Homo sapiens: one gene and its partner. The protein of the gene in region 1 interacts with the protein of each later gene in a biochemical or structural test. Each region holds a gene or a part of one and is shown in the gene's direction. Other genes may lie near its edges. The genes, in order: TAP1 and THOC5.

Evidence for each region.
Region 2: the proteins of TAP1 (region 1) and THOC5 form a complex in vitro, tested with the Homo sapiens proteins (one study listed by IntAct).

The regions. Positions count from the first base shown.
Region 1 is NC_000006.12:32,850,637-32,855,175, reverse strand, and holds the start of TAP1 (antigen peptide transporter 1), read left to right. Parts: upstream 1-1,471; 5' UTR 1,472-1,539; coding exon 1,540-2,137; intron 2,138-2,414; exon of another isoform or gene 2,415-2,581; intron 2,582-2,673; coding exon 2,674-2,788; intron 2,789-2,936; coding exon 2,937-3,067; intron 3,068-4,026; coding exon 4,027-4,232; intron 4,233-4,539. Other genes in the region: PSMB9 (proteasome subunit beta type-9 precursor), read right to left, coding at 887-946. UniProt on the Homo sapiens protein: ABC transporter associated with antigen processing. In complex with TAP2 mediates unidirectional translocation of peptide antigens from cytosol to endoplasmic reticulum (ER) for loading onto MHC class I (MHCI) molecules.
Region 2 is NC_000022.11:29,519,258-29,522,757, reverse strand, and holds part of THOC5 (THO complex subunit 5), read left to right. Parts: intron 1-1,658; coding exon 1,659-1,760; intron 1,761-2,653; coding exon 2,654-2,750; intron 2,751-3,500. UniProt on the Homo sapiens protein: Component of the THO subcomplex of the TREX complex which is thought to couple mRNA transcription, processing and nuclear export, and which specifically associates with spliced mRNA and not with unspliced pre-mRNA.

The DNA.
Region 1 (4,539 bases):
CCAAATTATAAGTGGTTTCACTGTGTCTTTCTTACCAGGCCGTAAGTTACTCTGGCCCCAAAGGACGCTCCTCTGAGTATGCTTTCCGACGGACCGACTTATCATGAATAGAGGGTCAAAGAACAGGGTTAACTTCAAGTTAGAGGCTATTCCTCTCTAACAAAGCCGCCCCCAAGCCACGAGTGGTGGCAGTAGTCCAGAGCAGAAGCCAGCCAGCCAGTCTTGGGGCTGCCATCTGCCCCAGGCGCCCATCCTAAGCAAAGTCCCCCCAGTGGGCACATGGGAGTGGGCAGGGAAGACACAGGGAAGGGAGTAAGGCAGCATCTGGGCCAAGGAGAGGCCTTCCTGGGTCAAGCTAGGGAAGGGCATCACTAGTTAACACAGAACGCCCATTATCAGTGCTTGGGCTAAGAGTTGCCCAGTGGCAAGTTTATCAAAAGTCTGTGTGATGAGTTGGTCCTTCTCAATAAGTGCCTATATTTCCTTCTCCCAAGTGCTGTTCTACTTCACCCAGGGCACCATTTCCTCATCTCTTTGCACCATCCCCAACCCCCTTTCTTGATTTAACCAGCCCCCACTGTCCGGGACCAGAGTGAAAGCGAAAGCGCTTTAGAGTAGCTTCCCGTTGACGCTTCCAGCTAAGAGTCAAAGCACCCGCTTTTTCCACCAGCCTCGCGTGCCTGTTCCCTTCACGGACACTCTAGACGACCCCCCTCAGAAAAGAAATACTCTATGCTCATTGCGGGTTGCAAGCGCTGGCTGCTACAGGCGACCTCCCTGCGCTCCCGTTGGTCTCTGCATTCACTTCTCCGCGCGCGCTTCCAGGGTCCCCTGGCCGCTGCATCTCCTCCACCCCTCTGCCAACCCTCAAGCCCAGACCCATTACCCCGGTGTGGACTTCTCCCGCCCGGGGTAAGTCCCCGGTTGGTGCTCCCGCCCGCAGCATCCCTGCAAGGCACCGCTCTCCTCGCCGCCTGGGGCACTGGTTTCCAACCTGGGACAGCGCACAACGCGCAGCCGACAGCCCCGCCCCTTCGCGGCGCCGCCAGGAGGCGCCTGGGTGCTGCGGGGCTGCTTTGCGCGCGGCGCTAACGTGTGTAGGGCAGATCTGCCCCGAGACAAGTGACGAGGCAGCCCCGCCCTGAGGCTGGGGTGGGAAAACTGGTGCAAGTGGAAAGGCAGGAGGCAGGGAGAGGCGAGAAGGGTGTGCGTGATGGAGAAAATTGGGCACCAGGGCTGCTCCCGAGATTCTCAGATCTGATTTCCACGCTTGCTACCAAAATAGTCTGGGCAGGCCACTTTTGGAAGTAGGCGTTATCTAGTGAGCAGGCGGCCGCTTTCGATTTCGCTTTCCCCTAAATGGCTGAGCTTCTCGCCAGCGCAGGATCAGCCTGTTCCTGGGACTTTCCGAGAGCCCCGCCCTCGTTCCCTCCCCCAGCCGCCAGTAGGGGAGGACTCGGCGGTACCCGGAGCTTCAGGCCCCACCGGGGCGCGGAGAGTCCCAGGCCCGGCCGGGACCGGGACGGCGTCCGAGTGCCAATGGCTAGCTCTAGGTGTCCCGCTCCCCGCGGGTGCCGCTGCCTCCCCGGAGCTTCTCTCGCATGGCTGGGGACAGTACTGCTACTTCTCGCCGACTGGGTGCTGCTCCGGACCGCGCTGCCCCGCATATTCTCCCTGCTGGTGCCCACCGCGCTGCCACTGCTCCGGGTCTGGGCGGTGGGCCTGAGCCGCTGGGCCGTGCTCTGGCTGGGGGCCTGCGGGGTCCTCAGGGCAACGGTTGGCTCCAAGAGCGAAAACGCAGGTGCCCAGGGCTGGCTGGCTGCTTTGAAGCCATTAGCTGCGGCACTGGGCTTGGCCCTGCCGGGACTTGCCTTGTTCCGAGAGCTGATCTCATGGGGAGCCCCCGGGTCCGCGGATAGCACCAGGCTACTGCACTGGGGAAGTCACCCTACCGCCTTCGTTGTCAGTTATGCAGCGGCACTGCCCGCAGCAGCCCTGTGGCACAAACTCGGGAGCCTCTGGGTGCCCGGCGGTCAGGGCGGCTCTGGAAACCCTGTGCGTCGGCTTCTAGGCTGCCTGGGCTCGGAGACGCGCCGCCTCTCGCTGTTCCTGGTCCTGGTGGTCCTCTCCTCTCTTGGTAAGGGGAACGCAGGGCAAGAGGGGAGGACACAAGGGGACTGGGACAGGAATCAAAGGTAATTGTCAGTAAGGTAGAGTAGCGTGGGTTCTGGGAAATGTGGAGCAGGAGAAGGACTCCTAGCGTGGGTCTTGGAACACCACTTCGGTGTAGAAGAAACGGCACTGGACTGGCGGGGGCCAGAGGTTCTGGGCTCCATTGCTGACCGGGTCTTGATTCTTTGGGCCACGCCGGAAGCGGGGAAATCCTTTGCTCTGGGGCCGAAGGGCGGGGCATCCTCATCTCTAACAGGAGGCTTTTCTACTTCATGATCTCCAGCCTTCCTAATAAAATCCTGAAAGTTCTGGTAGAGCAACCACAGGGTAGTGAGTTCCAGGGCAGCCTATTTAGGTTCGGGATTGAGACGTCAGTGTTTCCTTTCTGCTGATGCCCTCCAGGATAATGGTGAGGGGGAGGAGGCGTGGTGGGGCCAGTCTGACTGGAACTGACCTACTTAGACTTAATATTTGTGCGTGACCTCTCTTCTCTTTCTCCAGGGGAGATGGCCATTCCATTCTTTACGGGCCGCCTCACTGACTGGATTCTACAAGATGGCTCAGCCGATACCTTCACTCGAAACTTAACTCTCATGTCCATTCTCACCATAGCCAGGTCTGGGGGCTGAAAATGGGGCACCCTGCAAATGAGGGAGTTGGAAGTTGGGGCTGCTGTCCGAAATGCACTTATATGGGGATACCTGGGACCTTCAGTCTGTTCCCTGAACACACCCTGATCCCCTTTTTTTCCGGGTTCTTTATAGTGCAGTGCTGGAGTTCGTGGGTGACGGGATCTATAACAACACCATGGGCCACGTGCACAGCCACTTGCAGGGAGAGGTGTTTGGGGCTGTCCTGCGCCAGGAGACGGAGTTTTTCCAACAGAACCAGACAGGTTTCTCCTGAAACTCTTTCATTATACGCCATGTACTGTTCATATCCTCATACATCTGCTTTGATCTCCCCCCTCCCCGCTCTCTCTCTCTCACACACACATACACACATTGTTCCTTCTCATTCTTGATATACCCTCTCCCTGTCTCTCTCTCTCTGTCTCTGTCTCTCTCTCTCTCTCTCTCACACACACACACACACAATTGTTTTTCTCATTCTTGATATACCTCAGGAGCAAAATATTGTCCTCCTTACCTTAAGAAAAACCTAGAGTTTTCATCTAGCATTTTCTTATAAATCTATTCCTATGTATCCTTAGATAGAAACCATAGAATTTCAAACCTGGAAATTTTGAGCTCATAGAGACCAACTGCCTCATCTGACAGAGAAGGAAACTGAGGCCAAGACCCTAAATGCTGAAACTGCACAGTTACATATGGCTAGAGACACACTTGGGGTTAGAACCCTGGTCTCTTGAGTGCTCCACAGACTTCGGCATGCTTTCTAGCAGCACTAGAAGCTGTACAGTTACATATGGCTAGAGATAGACCTGGGGTTAGAACCCTAGTCCCAGTGAGTGCTCCACAGACTTTGGCATGCTTCCTAGCAGCACCCTCCTCCTCCATCTCTGTTATGTGACCAGTTTAAGCTCTTCCTGCCTGTGTGTATAGCATGGGACATACAGGTTCTCTAGGGAACAGAAAGCTTTCAGGAAAATGGAAATTCACATGTGCATTAATGACTTTATAATTAAAATGAAGGTCAGGCCTTTCCTCTTTAACACTCATCTTCCCTGCACTGAGATTTGCAGACCTCTGGAGAACCCTAACCTTGTTTCCTGCAGCCTCCTTAGAACCCCATGTTGACACCCCTGACCCTGGCATCCTGGCTCATTGTTAGTTCGTCTCATCACTTGGAACCTGTCTGATTCACCTCACTCTCTTCTCCCCAACCCTGCAGGTAACATCATGTCTCGGGTAACAGAGGACACGTCCACCCTGAGTGATTCTCTGAGTGAGAATCTGAGCTTATTTCTGTGGTACCTGGTGCGAGGCCTATGTCTCTTGGGGATCATGCTCTGGGGATCAGTGTCCCTCACCATGGTCACCCTGATCACCCTGCCTCTGCTTTTCCTTCTGCCCAAGAAGGTGGGAAAATGGTACCAGGTATGTTCATGGAGTTGGCCCGCTCTACACAGACCCTCATCTCCCAGACTTGGCAGACTCAGTTCCTCTCACATTGCTTTCAGTCCAGCTTTCCTGGCACCCTTACTGATTCTCCATCTTCATGGAACACCCTGTCCCTGTGGTCCATGTTCCCAGGTTGCTCAACATTAACCTCCATACTCTCTGGGTCTTCTTTTCTAGCTTCTCCCCACAATCTGTCTTTAAGAATTTGATCCCCAACCCGTTCTGAGTCATTTTCCTCTTCCTCGTATTTCTTTAGCATCCAAGGGGCATAGCTGTGTCTCTT
Region 2 (3,500 bases), on another chromosome or scaffold:
GTGCTGGGATTACAGGCGTGAGCCACCACGCCCGGCCACTAAGGTTTTTTTAATCCCTTACTTTTTATCAAAATTTTATAACAAAGATTTGACTGGTTGAGAAGTTTTTTTGTTTTGGTGTTATATTTTTATGACTATAAATAGCCTTTCCTTTTATGTTCATCATTTTTACCAAGTTCAGTTGTCTTAGCCATATGTTGCAGATATAAATTTTGCCAAGAAGGTGATTCCTTCATCAGGTTTTGTCAATTAATAACCTTCATCGTGGGCAGTTTTAGTTCTGTTTTATTTATTTACTAATAGATTGAATCAATCTATTAGTAATAGTCCCTAAACACTTGCTAAAAGACTGAAAAGTTTTATTTTATTTTATTTTATTTTATTTTATTTATTTTTTTGAGACAGAGTCTCGCTCTGTCACCCAGGCTAGAGTGCAGTGGTGCAATCTTGGCTTATTGCCAGCTCCGTCTCCCGGGTTCACACCATTCTCCTGCCTCAGCCTCCCAAGTAGCTGGGACTATAGGCGCCCGCCACCATGCCCAGCTAATTTTTTTTTTTTTTTTGTATTTTTAGCAGAGACGGGGTTTCACCGTGTTAGCCAGGATGGTCTCGATCTCCTGACCTCATGATCCGCCCGTCTCGGCCTCTCAAAGTGCTGGGATTACAGGCGTGAGCCACTGTGCCTGGCCTGAAATGTTTTATTTGTTTGGTAGTCAGTTCTCCATTTGAGGTGGTGAAGGGGGCAAAGACCTTGGGGAACAGGGATACTCAGTGAGACACAGTAGGGAAGAGCTGGAAGCCTCCACTGTCCTAGCATGGAGTTCCTGAAGGCATGCTGGGGCCAAAACGCAGGACCGGCACGTGCTGCCCAAGTTGCTCCTGACGTTATCCATGGAAAGATGAAGGAGAACCCCCTTTGGTTCAGGGAAAGAATGGGCCTTGTCATCCTTTGTGATAAAATTACTACATTACCCTCCCACATTATCTCTTTTTTGCTTGTCACATTTAATGACAAACTGTGCCCGAACCATCCCAGGTGGGTGGCAGTGGCGTCACTATTTCTCTCCGCTTGTAGCTGTGGGTCTCCAGTGTATGTGATTGTATCTTTTTCTGGGAACATACAGGGGGCCTTTTCCTGTGATGAGCATAAGATTTGGTCAAAGTGAGATAGACATAGCACCAAAGCTATACACTTGTTCTCTCTGTAGCAGAAAGGAGTCTGTTCTGCTTTTATGAAAATTGAAATTATTTCTACTGATGGTGTCATGGGACTTTGCTCCCCTGAGGTAAGGCCTTAGGCACCATATAAATCTTGAAGGGATGAGTTTTTTAAAAATTAATGATTAAGAGTACTAGTCTGTTTGATCAGACAATATAAAGCCACCTCTAGCACTTACTAGCAGTGTGATCTTGAATAAGCCATATCTTTTAAAGCCTTGAGTTTTTCCTCTATAAAATGGAAATGATAATCCTCCCTCATAGGGTTGTAAGGATGCAATGACCTCAAGCATATAAACGGTCTGGCCCACAGAAAGCCTTCAATAAATGGTGGCATTGGTCATCAGTGAGACGTGGCATTACCATCCCCAAATGCCCAAGCCTATGTTGAAGAAAGATGTTGGCTGCATTCTCACTGCTTACTGTTTTTCCTTTTCTAGTGACTTGCTGTCTCCTGACTCAGTCCTGAGTTGCTTGTATCCTGGGGATCATGGAAAGAAAACTCCGAATCCAGCCAATCAGTATCAGTTTGATAAAGTTGGGTGAGTCAGCAGTTTCCTCCTCTCCGAGCTCTCTACTTCTGAGTTTCTCTGGTGGCTCAAGCTAAATGCTGGAGACCTGTTAGGGCCAGAGGTGACCCAGAGGATAGGAAAGACCACAGGGTAGAAGGAAATGTTTGTTCTTTCTTGCTTACAAGGCAAAGGGAGATCACAAAAAGGGTGGAAGGATCAAAACTCGGAAACATGCTGGGTGTGGTGGCTCACGCCTGTAATCCCAGCACTTTGGAAGGCCAAAGCAGGTGGATTCCTTGAGCTCAGGAGTTCGATACCAGCCTGGGCAACATGGCAAAACCCTGTCTCTACAAGAAATACAAAAATTAGCCAGGCATGGTGGTGGGCATTTGTAGTCCCAGCTACTGGGGAGGTTGAGGTGGGAGAATTGCATGAGCCCAGGAGGTTGAGGCTGCAGTGAGCCATGGTCATGTCGCTGTACTCCAGCCTGGGGGCAACAGAGCCAGACCCTGTCTCAAAACAAAAACAAAAAGAAAAACAAAAAAAACCCTCTGGAAGCATAATAATACGTGATACAATAAAAATGTTTGACATTTTAATTATCCGAGGATTAATTTTTAAAAGATTTTCTAAATTGGTAGACCAATAAAGACATTAGTACACTGCCTTTGTATTTGATATTTGCTTATAAGTTGAAGGCTGCAAGAAGAAAAGGAAAAAGAGGAAAGTGAATGTGAGAGAGATGAAATTCACAGTAGGGAACTGACAAAGTTGAAGGGCTTTGCCAGCAGCCTGGCTGTGAACATGGCCAAACCTGCAGGACTGGATGGTTTGTGGGGCATGGGAGGGTGGGAGGAGGCTGTATCCTGGGACCACAGCAGAAATGACTTACAGCACAATTTTATTTATCTTCTTTTCTGCAGCATCCTGACTTTGAGCGACTATGTACTTGAGCTAGGTCACCCCTATTTGTGGGTGCAGAAGCTGGGTGGCCTCCACTTCCCCAAAGAGCAGCCCCAGGTCTGTACACTGATCTCATCTAGTTGGCTGAGGAGCTTACCTCTTCTCTTCCTGTATAGACTCTAGAAAGGCCAGGCCAGGTGCGGTGGCTCATGCCTATAATCCTTGTACTTTGGGAGGCTGAGGCAGGTGGATCACCTGAGGTCAGGAGTTTGAGACCAGCCTGGCCAACATGATGAAACCCCATCTCTACTAAAAATACAAAAAATTAGCTGGGTGTGGTGGCACGTTCCTATAATCCCAGCTATTCAGGAGGCTGAGGCAGGAGAATCACTTGAACCAGGGAGGCAGAGGTTGCGGTGAGCTGAGATCATGCCACTGCACTCCAGCCTGGGCAACAAGAGCAAAACTCCGTCTCAAAAAAAAAAAAAAAGGCCTGTCATGGCCTTTGGAGTTTTGAACTGGCAGAATGTGTCCCCTCAGGGCTGTGACCTGTCTTCTATCCACTCAGGACACTAAAATGTCTTAGACTTACAAGAGTTTACGTACCTTTTGCATTTTCTCTGAGCCTAGTAGCCTTTTAGACCCAGGCAACTTGAGTCCTTGCTCTGGGACTCATGTCTGCAGGCTCTGCTGCCCTTGTTCTTGTGTGCAAGTACCAAATATGAGGCATGAGCAGAAATCCAGGGGGCCTGGCCCCTTAGCAGAAGCCTGCCTTTCCTCAGGAGTTGGACACAGCTTCTCAAGAACGCAGCATATTGTGTTGTTTCTGCCAGGACTCAGCGTCTGGCCTGTCATAGCAGATAAACC